Linked DNA regions of Homo sapiens: region 2 is linked to region 1. A link means that fine-mapping ties the variant in region 1 to the expression of a gene that starts in the linked region. Tissue or cell type: blood mononuclear cells. Region 1 holds a variant in brackets; the other region holds the start of a gene. All regions are shown on one strand. Distances are between the middles of the regions.

Evidence for each region. PIP is the estimated chance that this variant, and not a neighbour inherited with it, causes the effect.
Region 2: it holds the start of DEGS2, and the variant in region 1 is fine-mapped to the expression of DEGS2 in blood mononuclear cells (TOPMed, PIP above 0.99). The same link has a PIP of 0.9 or more in whole blood.

What each region holds. Positions count from the first base shown.
Region 1 is chr14:100,114,761-100,122,677 of GRCh38, forward strand. The region is part of intron 3 of EVL (Enah/Vasp-like); the gene reads left to right. Among named protein-coding and RNA genes, the nearest start is that of MIR342, 9.1 kb to the left of the region's middle. The variant G/A (reference allele first, on the strand shown) is at 4,117.
Region 2 is chr14:100,154,925-100,162,841 of GRCh38, forward strand. It overlaps DEGS2 (delta 4-desaturase, sphingolipid 2), which reads right to left and starts at 4,721. Exons shown (of 3, transcript NM_206918.3): 1 at 4,582-4,721. The coding sequence starts at 4,663. It overlaps LOC124903380 (a long non-coding RNA gene), which reads left to right and starts at 5,113. Exons shown (of 2, transcript XR_007064330.1): 1 at 5,113-5,207; 2 at 6,384-6,790. RefSeq lists silencers at 4,508-4,567, 4,668-5,067.

The DNA.
Region 1 (7,917 bases):
TCATGGGCCTCTCCTTTCACTCCCACCTGCTCCGGGGGTGGGGGTGGGAGTGCTGGATCTTGGGGCGAGTATCTGCCACTGACCAATTACAGGGTTTGCAATGACATCCTTGCGGAAGCGGCAGGGTGGAAGCAGCAGCTGGGTACTGGGAGGCCTGAGCTTCTGTTCCAGCAGCACCGTTCACTGGAGGCACATGACCTCGGGTAGCTTTTCCGAGCCTCAGTTTCCCCACCTATAAAATAGGGTTAATAAGCCCAGCCATGGATGATTGGAGAGATTAGTCACAAAAAAAAAAACAATGCAGTTATGCTCAGTAAACCATTAAGCATTAAGATGTGGCAGATTTTTATTGCTATTTGTTCTGTTTGAGGTTCATTTTAAGGTTAGTTTTGTGTCCTGAAATAAGCATATTAGGAAGACAGAAAGAATATTCTGCAGGGAAAACAACTCCCCTAAGGAACACAGCCTAGTGGGCCCAAACAGTGGGGGTGGGGTGTCCTGGCCTGGAAGCTGGAGACTGGGTCTAGCCCTCCTTTCCTCATTGTGAATGTGAGCTTGGGCAAGCCCCTGCCCTTTCCCTGGGCCTCGGGACCCCTCTACACAAGGGGTGCTTCTCGCCGGTACATGCGCAGCACCAGGCCCCCTGCTGTCCTTTGTCAGAACTCAAGCGCTTTTCCTCTCCAGTGTCTCCTTGTTAGTGCATGACTGCAAGGGCTGGGTGCTTCCCACTGTGGCCCTGGTCAGTCCCCCACTCTCTGAAGTGCCATCCCCACATCTGTAAGTGATGACCTTCTAACTTGACAGGTCTTTCAGACCCTGAGCGCCTAGACACAGCTTTACCTATTGGTCACCATGGAGCTGAGCTGTCTCTGCTAAGCCCAGGGCCAGGGCTTAGGTAGGAGGGTCTGTTGCAGGATTTCAGTGGGTCAGTTGGCTCTGGTAATCTGAGTAAGACATGTCAGCCTGCTTGAGCCTAAATTCATGTGGTAAGAACTCAGCAGAAAAGACTAGAAAATTCACGCCGGGTTCCTTTAAGCAAGCAACTAAGCTGTCTAAGCTCGTGTTAGAATGGGGAGGGTGACAATCAGGTATTTGTCTCCTCCTGAGCTGAGCTCGGAGGATAGGGTTCAACACTAGCTGCCTTTGTTTCCCAAAGACAAATGCAGAGCTGTTTGTTTATTAATCAGTGCTGAGCATCAGTGCACTGGGGTGGACAGAGCCCTGGGCCGGGAGACATTTGTCGTGGGCTCTGGTCCCAGCTCTGCCACCAATTCTTGTATGGCCTTGGCCAGGTGACGGTAAAGATAGTGGCCAGACCAAGCTTAGCCCAGTTCACAGACTCCATTCTCGCTTAGACACTTGCTCGCTTGGTGATAGGAATGGCACCTGTGAGGAAAGCAGGGCCTTGTAACAAGAGGGAAAGGTGTGCCGGGGATGGCCCAGTCTCACTGTAAAATGAGGGGACCCTCTGGAAAGAGGGAAAGGAGCCAGCCAGAAAGATGGCAGAGCAGGGAGGAGGCCTTAGAAGAACTTGGGACTCTGCCCAGCTCAGACCAGGTGGCTGTCGTTTGTTGGCCAGAAATTCCATCAAGCATCACTGAGCAAGTGCTGGATCCTTTGTCTCTGGCACCCCTGACATCTCCGGTTCTATCTTTTCAGGAGCCCCAGGGAGACTTCCCATAGAGACTAACTGGAAACTGAGCCCATCCCTTCCATCCCAGAGGAGCTGGGGGCTGGTCTCCCAGAGCCTCATAAATGTTCAGGGGTGGCCAAGAGGAAGGCCTTCTTCAGGAGGAGGGGTCAGTAGTTCCTCGCCTTGTCTGCCTGCCTTTGGCTGTATAAATTAATGCATTACCTCAGACAGGAGCCACACCGCTCCCTGCCTACCCCGCGCCCACCATACCTCGCGGAGGATGGATCGCAGAGCAGGGATTCTCCTCCGTAGGGTCTCTTAGACATTTATTTGTTTAGAGGTAGTGCATGATTTGGAAATTCAGAGAGAGGAATATAAGCCCACAATCCCGAGATAGCCACTGTGAACATTTTAGTATATTTCCTCCTTTGTCCTTTAGAGTTGTAGAAATTTGGAGCTGATGATCCTTGGTTCCACGCTTCTCACTTTATAGAAAATGGAAGTCCAGAGAGGAGAGAGACTCCCACACACCTAACTTACTGGCAGAGCTCCAGCACAGTTCACTCTGAAGGGGATTCGTACAATCCAGAACCGTCCAGGAGAGCACAGCCAAGGCGGAAAGGGACTGGAAGACAGGACGGGGACCAAGGGAGGCCTGGAGGGGAGTGCACCAGGGCTGCCAGGCCAGCACAGAGAGACGGTCTTTGTGGTCCTGACAGACCACTGGGGGCAGTCCTGGCAAGACAGATTTCACCCTTTGGGAAGAAGACTTTGCCAGTGAGAACCACCCACCCCAGCTAGGGCCTCGCACTTGAGGTCAGACCGGGTGGCTCCTAAGGCTCTCTGTACAGCCCTGAGAACCTGTCCAGCTCCTGGGATACCTCTCCCGGTGCCACGTGGATGGGCATTGAGGCAGCAAGGCCATTGGGTGCTGGCAATGTGCCACACTCCTGCCCAAGAAGGGGCTCCGCCAGGGGGCTCCGAGCCGCAGCTTCTCACACTCGCACCAGGGCTGGGCTCCCCTTCTTGCTCTCCCTGTCTCTGTGCCCCGCTTGACCCTTCTTCCTCCATGTGTCCTATCCCCCTGCAGTCTTGGTGACTCTGTGGAGGGCTTTAGAGTCCTCTCTTTTGGGGTTGAAGCCTGGCTTAACTGTTGACTGTTCAGAGGCCACAAAGATGCTACTTCAGTTTTCCAACTCTCCAGCTTTCTTACGGGTAGAGTGGAGCTCACAGCAGGATTCCTAGGACGAGGGAGGCTAAACGAGGTGGTGTCTGAGTCTCTGGCACAGGATCTAGTACGTAGTGTAATACACACTCAATAAACTTGAGTTCTCTCCTTACCCCAACTCATTGTATTTTCTAAGTGCCACTGCCACTGGTGGCCTATGGTGTGTCACTCACTGATAGCTCGTGAGGCCCAGTCCTCAGCTCAGCCACTGTTTCCTGCTCTGGGAGCTTATAAGCCATTAGACTTCTGCTATTTTCTCTAAGACTGTGTCACTCGCTCTAGGCTCGCCCAGTGGCTGGAGATGCTCAGTTTGCCTGGGGCCAGTCATCCACGTACTTAACAAATATGTATTGCATTGACTATAGGTCAAAAACTATGGTAAGTACTGGGAATACAGAGGTGAGCAAAACAGTTATGTCCATGGAGTTAAAGTCAGGCTGTTCTGTTGGCCACGCTCTTCCTCCTGCCCTTCCTGGTATGTGCAAGCATATGTCATGGATCCTGGTGAACTCGGACTCACATTCAGAGTCCCATGAGCAGGTGCTCTCCTACACCTGGGCCACGCCTGACCGCCCGAGTCTCAGCAGGCTATGAGGAAGTGGGAGGGGAGGAGTGTCACCTGCATCTGGCTCATTCTCCGTGAAGCCCATAATGCGTGCCCAGATTTTCCCTCTTCTGTGCTCTCCCTACCCCTTTCCACTACACTAGGACAGCTTTCTTGAAGATGGCAGTACCTTGCTTTGGAATCCTTTGTCAAATCCTTATGTCAGAGAGAGATGCTATAAAAGCCTTTTGAAAAGGTACAATACAAGGACCATGTATAAGCTCATCTCCTCCTTGGAGCAGCCTGTGAAGGGCACATGGCAATTCTTCATGTCCCTGCTTGCAGAATAGCAGCAAAGGGGAGTGACCGCCAAACGCCTGTAGTGTGTCCCAGGTAGAGATGCTGCCAGACGGGAGCCCGCCTCTTGCAGTGCTCACTCTCCCCAGTGAGAAGGGACTCGGACCTCCTGGCCCCACTCCCCATCAGTCATATAGACTCTGCCCTGAGTCTGTCAGCTCCTGTCCCCTGTGGCTGGCCCCCTCACCCCACCTCACCACCCCTCCCTTTCAGGAGGGCTCATGGCTGAGTCTGGCCCAGCCTTCCCTCCCCTCTTGTGTGTTTCTCCCCAGCTCATGGCTCCTAAGAGTAAAAGGGCTCCTCTGACTCACCACTGTGTTTGGGAGGAGTGGGTGTTTGATGGAACTTAGACTC[G/A]AAGCTGGAAAGTGGGCCTCCAAGACAGCAAGAAGTCAGCTCCTTCCCAAGAATCATCACAGTCCAGCGGGCCCTGGAGCAGGCCAGCCTGGACTTGAGCCTTGGCTGGGTCTCAGCCTCTGTCCTCCTGCAGCTCTTTGTGTTCAGAGAAGAGGTCAGCCAGGGAACCTATGGCCCGTCCTGCTACCAGTGGTGAGCCCTGCCACCAAGGGCTGGACCCACATGACACCATGAATGCCCAGCCACCCTGCTCTTGTTTGATGTTGGACCTGAAATTTCCCTTTCTCTTTTTCATTTGTCTGTGGCATGATGGGTTCTTTTATTTTTCCTTTTTTAATTTTTGAATTTCTTCTCATGCTTGTTTCCTATCTCATCCTCTTTATTTTGACTTGACAAAATTTGTCTGAGATGAATGAGAAGAGGGTGAGAGTTTTCTTAGTTGGAGTCCCAGGTGAATGGGCCAGGCCCCTGCCTCGGCAAAATCAGCTCCCAGACTCAACAAGCTTGGGACACTGGGGCCAGCGTCACAAACCCTGTGGCTCTGGGCAAGTCCCCTCACCCCTGAGAACCACCACCACTCATCCCGTATACTTCAGGGGGCCGTGGTGGAACCAGCTGGGCAGTGAGTGCACGCAGCCTGTGGAGAAGAAAGCGCTCCACCGAGGGGACCACACCAGCAAGGCTTGGGGGGCAGAGGGCCACTTAAGCCAGCACATAGGCAGGTTCCCGTCCAACTCAGCAGAAAGATCAACAGTGTGCTTTCAACAGTAATGCGAACAAATATTTCCAGCACTTTATGGATTACCATGTGGTTTTTACTCCTAGAGTTTGTTTATTCCTCACCGCAGCTTGGTGAGGTACCACTGTTAGCGTTAGTGTATTAGGACTCCCATTTTACAGATGAGGGCACAGCAGCTTGCCTAGGGGTGCATGACTAGGCAGATGTGAGGCAGAACTTAGGCCAGGTCCTCTCGTGCCCACTGCCTGCCCAGGTTAGTACCTCATGGGAACAAGACAATTAAGATGTGATCCGCAGACCATCGTTGCCATACATTCACTGTACAAAGGAGGGCACCTCATGGCCACAGAAGGTGACTCTGCGCTCTGCCACTGTGTGCAGAGCCACAGGGTCCTCTAGCAGAAAGGCATCTGAAACTCACAGCCCTGAGAAAAAGGCTGGGTCAGCAGCTCTGTGACTTTAGTTTGTCCCTAAGGCCTCTGGTCAGCAGAGGGTACCTGGTGCTGGCAGGGCATCGTTACACTGCTGCATCCTCTCTGGACAAGCATGAACTTGGGGGACCCCTTCTAATCCCTATATCTCCGTGGCTCACCTCCTAGGTTTTTCTTTTCACTCAAGTCAGTTCAGCATGACTCCTTCACCTGAACTTTTCCCCAAGGGTGAGTGAGCTTGAGCCCCCTCTCCCCTTCCTGACTTAGTTCAGTGGAATATGAACTAAGTGTCTGATGCGAGCCAGGCTATGAGCGTGGAGTGCGGAGTGAGACGTGCTCTCTGCCTGCAAGAAGCCCAGGGTCTAGTACAGAAAAGAAGGCAGCTCCCAAATTACTGGAATATGGGTGAGAAAGCTGTCAGTTTTTAAGAGAGGCGCATGGGCACCGGTTGGTGAGAAGGAGCATGAGGACCTGGGGAGGGCTTCATGGAAGAGGTGACCACTGAGCTGGGCCTGGAAGCCTTGCTTGGTGGAGACGGCAGGAAAAGGTGACCCACATGGGTTGAGTAGCGCACAAAACACAGAGAGACAGGAAGCATGGTGGGGCCGGGCCCAGTGTCCAGGTGCAGGAGGTCAGCTATGGAGGACTGTCGGGGAGGCGCAGCCACAAGGTGGCCTGGGGCCTAGGCTGAAACCTTGAATCTTATTCAATGGAGCCTGGACCCAACCCTGTGCAGGTCATGTCTGTGTTTCCCAGACATCACTTAGGCCACACTGTCAGAATGAGAGAGAGTGGAGGTGAGGGTCCAAGAGAGAGACGCCAAGGCTGCCAGGTGGCAGCAGAGAAGCAGGGTGTTTTGTGGGGCAGCCGACACAGCACCAACAAGACTCCGTTACCTAACGAGCCGTGGGAGGCAGAGAGGGAAGAGCTGGGACTCCCACCATCCCCATCGCCCTGACTCCTGTGGAATCCAAGCTCAGCTCGGGCGACGAGAGGTGGCTCCAAGGTGCTCATCTGCAGCACGGGACAGGTGCCACATCCTCCGCCTTGGCTTCTGCCTGCATCACGCAGGGAAGTCATGTGTAGTGCCTCACCACTAGACACGAGGGAGTCTGATTACTAGCAGCCAGGAGCCTTCCTTAGCTACTCCTCCCACTGAACAAGCACCTGCCAAGGGGCTGCTGCTTGGAGCTTCCCAAGGGCCACCAGCAGTCTGCAGCAATGACCTTCCCTGTCCCTCCCCCCGACTGCCACGGGGAAGCTGTGCCGGGGGACGGAGGAGGCCAGGAGTAAGGGGGCGATGGGAACCTCAGGTCTGTCACAGTTACCCTGGGTGACATTGGACAGACCCCTGCGCCTTGCTGGGCCTTAGCTCCCACCCCTAAAACAAAAGGACTGTACTTTTATAATGTTCAGGGCCATGGTGGCTCAAAACAATTGAACATTTTCTTCGTTTAAGAAGAATGGCAAGCCTTACGTAATCAGTGCAATCAAGTGTTATCCTTTCCTGCTCTGTCGGGTCTAAAACTCCAGCCAATTTTTAATCAGGTCTTAGGTGCAGGGGCCAGAGCCCTCTGGAAGGGCCAGGGCTCCTATTAGACTTTCCCAGCCTCTGGAGAAACAGGTTGGGAGGGTGTTGGGAGGACGTCAGCCCAGCAGGCAAAATGGGGAATCCAAAGCACACAACCACACAGGCCTGTGTGTGGGCAGCTGGCTGCCATCGGGGTCCTGACAAGGGTGGAAAACAGTTACAGTGACCTGGGCAAGGCCAGACCACAGACACAGAAGGATCTTGCGACAGCTGGTGGAGCCCAAGCGTGGAAAGGCCTCCATCCTAGGGCAGGGCCAACCCTCAGACCAAATGCTAGACAGGGTCGCTGGGACAGGGACTCAGCTCCCAGAAGGACAAAATCCAGATCCAGGAGTGAACTCAGCCGTTGAGACCCGGTCTTAGAACAAGGCAGATGTCCAGTTGTCCAAGCCAGAGCCCAAAGCCTGTGCCAAGCTCACAGCAGAGCAGCTCAGGTGCAAGTCCCGGACGTGGAGCTGAAACGCCAGGAATCCCTCCCGCCTCAGCCAGGATGAGTGGCAGTCAGGGGGCGGGGGGACACATGCCCACAGCACCTTGCACACCATCCAAGGGCAGCTTATGAGTCTGCCACATTCATCCTTCTTTCTTCAAGCTGGTCTCAATCTGACACCACTGTCTGATTGAGTTTAAGAAAGAACGTGGCATTTGCAGTTGGTTTGCATCTGCCACTTGCTGTATGTAAGACCTTGGGCAAGCCATTTAGCCTTTCTGGGCCTGGCTTCCCAGCTGTTACAAGTCCTTATGGGAGCCTTCTTATAGGGCTGTGAGAATTAGAGTTAAATTTAACATTAAATTTTAAAAAGTGCCTGGACGTTGCTCTGGTAATAATGTTCACATATTCATTCCTTCTGTTTCTTGAGAACAAGGAGGGAAGAACCACTAAGACCTTGGTCCTCTATGAAGTAGGAGGGAACAGGGCTGTCCCCACATCATCAGTGCAGTTGTAACTTGAATATTGCTGTGACCCCATCCTGCGGCAGAAACAAAGCCACTTCCCCATCTTGTCAGGGAGGTATGAGAGCAGCCTGCCCAGAGTCCCT
Region 2 (7,917 bases), 40 kb after region 1:
TTTTGTCTTGTCCCCAGCAGGGCTCCCAAAAGCAAAGGGGCCTCTTATCTCTTCCACACTGGGCCCCAGTGAGCCCCCAAGCCCTGGCTCTGGCAACATCTAGGGAGACCTGCTGTATCACCTTCCCAGGGAGGCCAAATGCCATCATATGACAGTCACTCACTGGCCACATGGGAGGTGCCCGTCACTGCCCATCATCCCTCCAACATTCCACCTCTGCCGCCACCTGCTTCCCAGCTCCCTGTTCCACCACAAACCTGCTCAGGGTTGACGATGCCACCTGGTGGCCACAGCAGGAAATGCTTCCATACAACGTGGCCTCTTCCCCACCCATCCACAGCTGAGTAACCTGACCTGGGACAAGCTTCTCCTCACAAAGGCAGCAAAGCCCTCCTAATCCCCTCCTTCCTAAACTTCTTCCTCCCAGCCCTGGCCTAATGCTCTGGGAAGCCACCTACCCACAGCTTCCATCCCTGCCACCTGAGGTTTTGTGCCAAGAGACAAGCCTGACCCTGTCCAGTGTGGGAGGCACCCTGGGACCTAGTTGGATCTGGAAAGTGTGGCAAGTGTCCAGCTTCTCACCAGCCGCTCACTAAACCTGCCTTTCATTTCCAGTGACAAATATATACTGAAGATCTGGGAGCAGCCAGGCCCCCGTACGTTACAGAGATGGGTTTACCCTGCAGCCGGGCAGCTCTGTGGCTGGGAGATGGAGCCCCAGGATCCCCTTGTGGCTCTGGCAGTTTGGTCCTGGATTTTACCAGTTACCACTGACAGAGCCTCAGCCCCGGCCTTTCTGAAGCAAATAATCCAGCAACAGCCAGCAGTTTCGCTTCCGGGATTTCCTCTTTTGTTTTTCTTTATTTGAATTTTTGTATTACCATGTGTGCCCTGCTTTCATAATTTAAAAACAAACAAAATTACAAAGCTATTCATTTTCAAAAAAAAAACAAACCCAGAGCTTGCCTCTTACTCCACCGGCCACGCCTGGCTGGGTCTCTGATGGGGCCAGTCTCGCTGGCTCCGGTCCTGCCCTTTCAGGTCAGGGAGCCTCAGCCCTGGCCTAGGAGACCCCACTTTCTTAGGAAGTTATGTTCTAGGGAGCATGTCCCCCTCCCCGGCAGGAGCTGGAGATGGACTTTGGCCCCAACCCACAGAGCTCCTGGAGCCAGCTCTTTGCAAGGACTTCCTGGATTCTGACTGTCAGATTATGATCTTTATTGAACATCCCTGGGCACCCAGGAGCTTGGCATAGGCTGCAGGAGCCAGCTGGGTGGGGCAGGAGGCTGCCTGAGCACCAGCCTGGCCTGTGTGTTCCCCGGCAAGTTGCTTCCCCTCTCTCAGCCTCACTCCTGCCTCTTCTATAAAGAGATGCTGGCAGTTACACAGAGCATTTCTCCAAGGCCTGGGAATAGCATAGGCATGGAGGAAGCAGAGAGTATTCCCTGTCCTTAGGGAAACGACAGCCCTTGCCAGGTCTCTGAGACATTAATCATTATCATCGCAGCTGATACTCATCGAGTCCTGGAATAAGCACTTTACATATCACCTCGTTTAATCTGCACAGCAGCCCCATTAGGAAGGTATGATTTATTAACCCCTTTTCATTTGCCCAGGCCCCAACTCCTTCATCTGTTTACAGACTCACCCGTGGCTAATAAGTGGGTGTCAGGGTCCTTGCCAGGGGTTCAGCTCCACAGCCAAGCTCTTGAACTGTGCCCCAAAGAGCCCAGAGCCCAGAGGGCTTGGAGCCATGGAGGGGAACCCAGAGGAGGGGTCCCCATCCAGCTGGGCCAGGTCTGGGAGCAGTGGAGGGGCTTTCTGCAGGAGGTGGGACTGAACTGAGCGAGCAAGGCTAAGCAAGACAGAGCCTGGCAGAGCAGGGAGGAGGGACATTCACCTGGGGGAACAGCTTGTGCCGGGGAGGGAGGGAATGGCACATTCCAAATTTATTAGCTGAAAACAACAGGTGGAAAGGAAGCCCCTGCTTCCGCCCTGCAGGAAAGGGAGCGTGGACCAAGCTGGAGGGCCCGCCCTGAGGACTTGTGCTCCCCAAGCCCTGGCCCCAGGTGCCTCTCCCTTTTCCAAGTCTTTCAACCTTCCTAGCCACCACCTCCAGAAAGCCTCCTGGATTGGTTCCAGGGCCTGTGGCTTCCCTCTTTAGAGAGAGCTCCTTCCCCACGTCCTGGAGGGCCAGGTACCACCTCGGGCACCTTCCCAGCTGAGATATCATCTCATCCTCACACCTACTCTGCCTGGTAGGACGACTGCCCGTTTTGCAGATTGGGAAAGTGAGGCCACAGCCCAGAGTGTCTGGATCCCTCCAGGTGGCCCTGAGGTAGGCCCAGCTCCTATTCTATGGATATGAGCTCCTAGGGACCAGGACACTGGCTGCCATGTGCCTCTTGCCTTTTCCACATGGTGCCAGATACCCAATGAGTCCTGTGAAGTGAAGCTGGGGATAGCCAGGGGAGGGGACAGAAATGCAAACAGGGCCAAGGAGGCCCCTGCTCCAGCCTCAGCCCCACCTCAGACCTGCTGAGGGGCAGTAGCCAGGACACCTGCCCTGTTCACATGATGAGCAGGGAGGGAGGGTCAGATGACCCCCAAGGTTCCTCCCAGCCCTCCCCAGGAGTTCCACAGCATACGGGAGGCAGCTACCACTGCTGGGACCAGACGATGCTGGGCTGCAGCTCACCTCCCAGGAGAAACCACAGCAGTCACAAACCCACATAGAGGCTTCCAGCTCCTGAGGCCCCAGTTACCCCGGGATGCAGTCACAGGCTAGCCACCCAATGTATCTTGGGTTTCAAACATTTAAAAGTCATGGTATCTCAGTATGCTGCCATGGGATTAAAAAAAGAGGAAGAAAGAAAAAGTTGGCTGGGCGCAGTGGCTCACACCTGTAATCCCAACAGTTTGGGAGGCAGAGGCGGGTGAATCACCTGAGGTCAGGAGTTTGAGACCAGCCTAGCCAACATGGTGAAACCCCATCTCTACTACAAATACAAAATTAGCCGGGTGTGGTGGCGGGTGCCTGTAATCCCAGCTACTCAGAAGGCTGAGGCAGGAGAATCGCTTGAACCTGGGAGGCGGAGGTTGCGGTGAGTGGAGATCGCATCACTGCACTCCGGTCTGGGCGACAGAGCAAGACTTCCTCTCAAAAAAAAAAAAAAAAAAAAAAAAAGTTGTTCAGGCCAGGCGTGGTGGCTCATGGCCCATGCCTGTAGTCCCAACACTTTGGGAGGCTGAGATGGGTGGATCCCTCGAGCTCGGAAGTTTGAGACCAGCCTGGGCAACATGGCAAGACCCTGTTTCTAGTAAAAATACAAAAAAAATAGCCGGGCATAGTGGTACACACCTGCAGTCTCAACTACTCAGGAGGCTGAGGTAGGAGGATCAGTTGAGCCCAGTGGGGAGAGGTTGCAGTGAGCTAAGATCGCGCCTAGCCAACATGGTGAAACTCCATCTCACTACAAATACAAAAATTAGCCGGGTGTGGTGGCAGGTGCCTGTAATCCCAGCTACTCAGAAGGCTGAGGCAGGAGAATCGCTTGAACCTGGGAGGCGGGGGTCGCAGTGAGCCGAGATCGCGAGACTCTGTCTCTAAATAAATAAATTAATTAAATTAAATAAAACGCCCGATTAAAATGTGAAACCTCCATCAAATAAGTGCAAATTAAAGCCACAGTGAAATGGTATTGTTTCCCCAATCTGACTGAAGATTACAAAGTGTGGCAACGCGCGGTGCTGACTTAGGCAGGGCGGGAGGGGCGGGCCTGTCTCAGCCTGTGGCGATTTGGTGGCATCTGGCAAAAGCCACTCTCCAGACGCAGGCCCTTTAACCCCGTAAGCCCGGGCCAAGGACGACTCACCGGGGCCACCTTGCTTGTGGGTGGGATGGGGCCTCTGGCATGAACGAGAGTGACTCCGAGTGGGTAAAGATGCCCTCCTCGCAGAGGACACGAAGCAACAAGGAAAACAGCCACCACGTAATAAGCGACATGCCAGAATAGAAGGATTCTTTAGTACAATCTTTGCTTTTTTCAAAGAAAACACGCGCGCCTCTCATTCGCGTTTGCTCCCTTCCCGGCGCTCATCCGCCCTGAACTCCAGCCTGGGGCGCCCGTGGCCGCGAGACCCAGGGGCTCTGAGCGCAGCAGGCGCCCAGTGACTGCGGGTGGAGGCCCCGCGTCGCGCAAGCTGCCTCCGCGCCAGGGAGCGCGTGCGCCTCGTAGCGCGTCCCGGGGCCGCCCCTGCGCCCTCGCGTCCCAGCATCCCAGAGCCCCGGCCCTGGCCCCGGGAGTGGCTCGCGAGGAACAGCTGGGACGCGCTCCCTGGCGCTCGGACCCGTACTGGGGTCCTCGGAATCCTCAGGTCCCAGGGAGTTTCAGACCCGGCCAGGGTGGGGGACCCTCGGGGAGCCGGCCGGGGACCCCAGGGAGGGGAGCGGCAATGGCGGAACGCCCACTGGAATTTGGGCCAGAGCTGGAGCGGCCCGTCTGGGCTCGACCCCACGACGCGACTCCAGACGGGCCAACGGGGCGGTCCCCACCGGGGTGGGCCCCGCGCGGCGCTCACCCAGTATCTCCTTGCGCCGCTGCGTGTGCGGCTGGTCGGTGTAGACCCACTCGAAGTCGCTGCGGCTCGCGCTGTTGCCCATGGTGGGGCGGGAGGCGCCGTTCGGAGCGCGGCCGGCTCGGCTCTGCTGCACCTGTCGCGGCGGCCGCGGCGCGGAACCAGCTCTGATTAGGGCGGGGGCGGGGTCCCGGCGGGGCGGGGCCAGGTGCGCCAGGCTTGGGGCGGGGCACCTCTGGCTGGGCGGGGCGGCCGGGCCCCGGCGCTCTCCAGACCCCGGCGGGTAGCTGGCGCTTTGGGAACCTCAGTTGCCTCGGTTGGAAATGGGGCTCCCCGGCAGGACCGAGGTGGCCGCGTGCCATCTGCGCGAGTCCCTGGGTCCCTCGATGCGCGGGGGCGACTGCTGCCACCGCGGCCTCCCACCGGCTCTGCGCGCCCCGCCCACCCGCGGGCAGCCGTCGGGTTTTTACCCCGGCCCGTTCTCTCCGCAGCCCCGACCCGCTCGCGGGCACGCCCCTGTGGCTCGCGCCGCCCCTGCCCCAAGGAGGAGCGGCTGGCAGGATAGGGGGACTGCGGAGGATCGGCGTGGAATGGATGCGACGGTGCCAGTAAACAGGCGCCGAGGAAAGGTTGGTGCAGCAATCCTCCCTTCCTCCACCCGGCCCTTTCACCAATAATGCAAAGGGGAGATAATGCGTCTGCAGCAACCTCACAGGGATGAGTCAGACCCACTCCTGCCTTCAGGGAACTTGAGTTCTGGATGGGGACACAGGTACAGAAGTGGCTGTTATGATTCAGGGTGATACGTGCCATGACACAGGTAGGCCCTGAAGCAGCTAGGATCCAATAGAAGGAACTTTTGCATTGGGCCTTGAGGGGTGGGTAGGAGTTCAACAGCTAGAAAAGGGAAAGGCATTGGTGCTAGGGGGAACAGCAGATGCAAACGCTTGGAAACAAGGCAGAACCTGAATGTTCTCAAATGGAAAGTCTAGTTTTGGGGAGGTAAGGGCACAGGGCCCCTCATCTTCACCCTCTCAGTGATGCCTCTGTTCCTTCTCCCACTCCCTTGGAGTTTTGGAGGGTGGACCTGCTGTGCCTGTGGGCCAGAGCCTGGCCTCGGCTGGCAGTTGCCTGGGAGCTGACTGACACATCAGCCAGCGCTGCCACAGGCTCGCACATAGTGAGGGCGTGCTTCTGTGCGTCCCATGGAAGTCCATGGCCCGGGGTTTGGTACACTTGGCAGGCCTTCCTTAGCTCAGGGCCAAAGGCAGTCCTGAGTGAGCCAGGAAGGAAGGCATGGGTGTCCTGCAGCCGCCAGCCACCATCCCCTGAATTAGCCATGGGAAAGGTGGACACAGAGGCCAGATTTTCCATCAGCAGGGGGACCCACATGCCACCATGGCCATCACCCCTTGCCACACCCAGGAGGCCTCCCGGCCCAGCTTGCACCCTTGGGAGAAGACTCATTGCTCCCAGGGCAGCCTGCTCTGTTCCCAGCCAGAAGGGTCCTCAGAAGTCATCCCACCAGCCATCACTTTACAGATCAGGAGACTGAGGCCCAGAGATGAGGAGCGCCTTGCCTGAGGCACAGAGGAATTAACAGCAAGGCTGGGGCATGACTTTGGCCCCTGACCTTTGAATTAAAAAGCTTCCAAAATCAGAGCCTTCGCCCCTGTGTTGAACTCCGTGAGATCTGCCGCCCTGAGCCCCAGCTCCACCCTCAGGACAACACCAAGCCTGCCAGTTCCCTCTGCCCCAGGCCACCGCCTATCCAGAGGAAACTCACCAAGGCCCTCATTTTCCAGATGAGGAAACTGAGGCCAGAGAGGGGACAAGTCAGAGGACATGCTGAAGAAGACCTGGGAGTGGAACAGACACCCAGGATGCATGAAATCAAGTCTGATGCCCTTGCCAAGTGCTCCCCAAGTCCCTGGGGAGCCAGAAACCCAGCTTCACGGTGTTGACGAGCCAGGAGCACATACTGTTGCGTCCCCACCCTGTCCGTTGTCCCAGAAATGACAGAAAATACATTTTCGTTTGTAATGTGGTGTCTTGAATGGGATCCTGGAGCAGAAAAAGGACATTAGGTAAAGCTAAGGAAAGCCTAGTAAAGCTGGACCATAGTTAATCATAGTGTATCAATATTGGTCCATCAAAGGCAACAAATGCACCATATTATAAGATATTAAAATAAAGGAAACTGGGTGTGGCATATATGTGAACTTTCTAAACTATCATCACAGTTTTTCTGTAAATATAAAGCTGTTCTGAAAAATAAAGTTTATGGCCGGGCATGGTGGCTCACGCCTGTAATCCCAGCACTTTGGGAGGCTGAGGTAGGCAGATCACCTGAGCTCAGGAGTTCGAGACCAGTCTGGCCAACATAGTGAAATCCCGTCTCTACTAAAAATACAAAAATTAGCTGGGCGTGGTGGCAGGCACCTGTAATCGAGGCAGGAGAATTGCTTGAACCTGGGAGGCAGAGGTTGCAGTGAGCTGAGATTGCACCATTGCACTCCAGCCTGGGCGACAGAGCGAGACTGCATCTCAAAAAATATAAATAGGCCGGGCACGGTGGCTCACACCTGTAATCCCAGCACTTTGGGAGGCCGAGGCAGGTGGATCACGAGGTCAGGAGATCGAGACTATCCTGGCTAACACAGTGAAACCCCGTCTCTACTAAAAATACAAAAAAAATTAGCTGGGCATGGTGGCGGGCACCTGTAGTCCCAGCTACTCGGGAGGCTGAGGCAGAATGGCATGAACCCGGGAGGCGGAGCTTGCAGTGAGCCGAGTTTGCGCCACTGCACTCCAGAGCCTGGGCAACAGAGCAAGACTCCGTCTCAAAAATAAATAAATAAAAATAAATAAAATAAATAAATAAATAATAAAATAAAATGAAGTTTATTAGGCCAGGTGCAGTGGCTCACACCTGTAATCCCAGCACTTTGGGAAGTCGAGGCAGGCAGATCACCAGGCTGGTCTTGAACTCCTGGACTCAAGGAATCCACCCACCTTGGCCTCCCAAAGTGCTGGGATCACAGGCATGAGCCACCGCGCTCAGCCAAAATATAGTTTCTTTTAAATATAAAGTTTGGGAGTGTACACACACACACGCGCACACAGCATTGGAAAGCAGGGACTCTTTGGACTGGAAACTGAGAGGGAGCCCACCACGGCCAGCTACTCTTCAGTGGCCCCTTGGCCTCCCTCCACACCCCCATTTCCCCTGGGCCAGGCAGCAGCAGGGGTGGGGTGCTGGTTACCTCTCAAGAGGGCCCTGATTGTAAGCCCCCTGGCCGGAGTGCTGTGCCAGGAGCAGGATGGGCCTCCACCCAA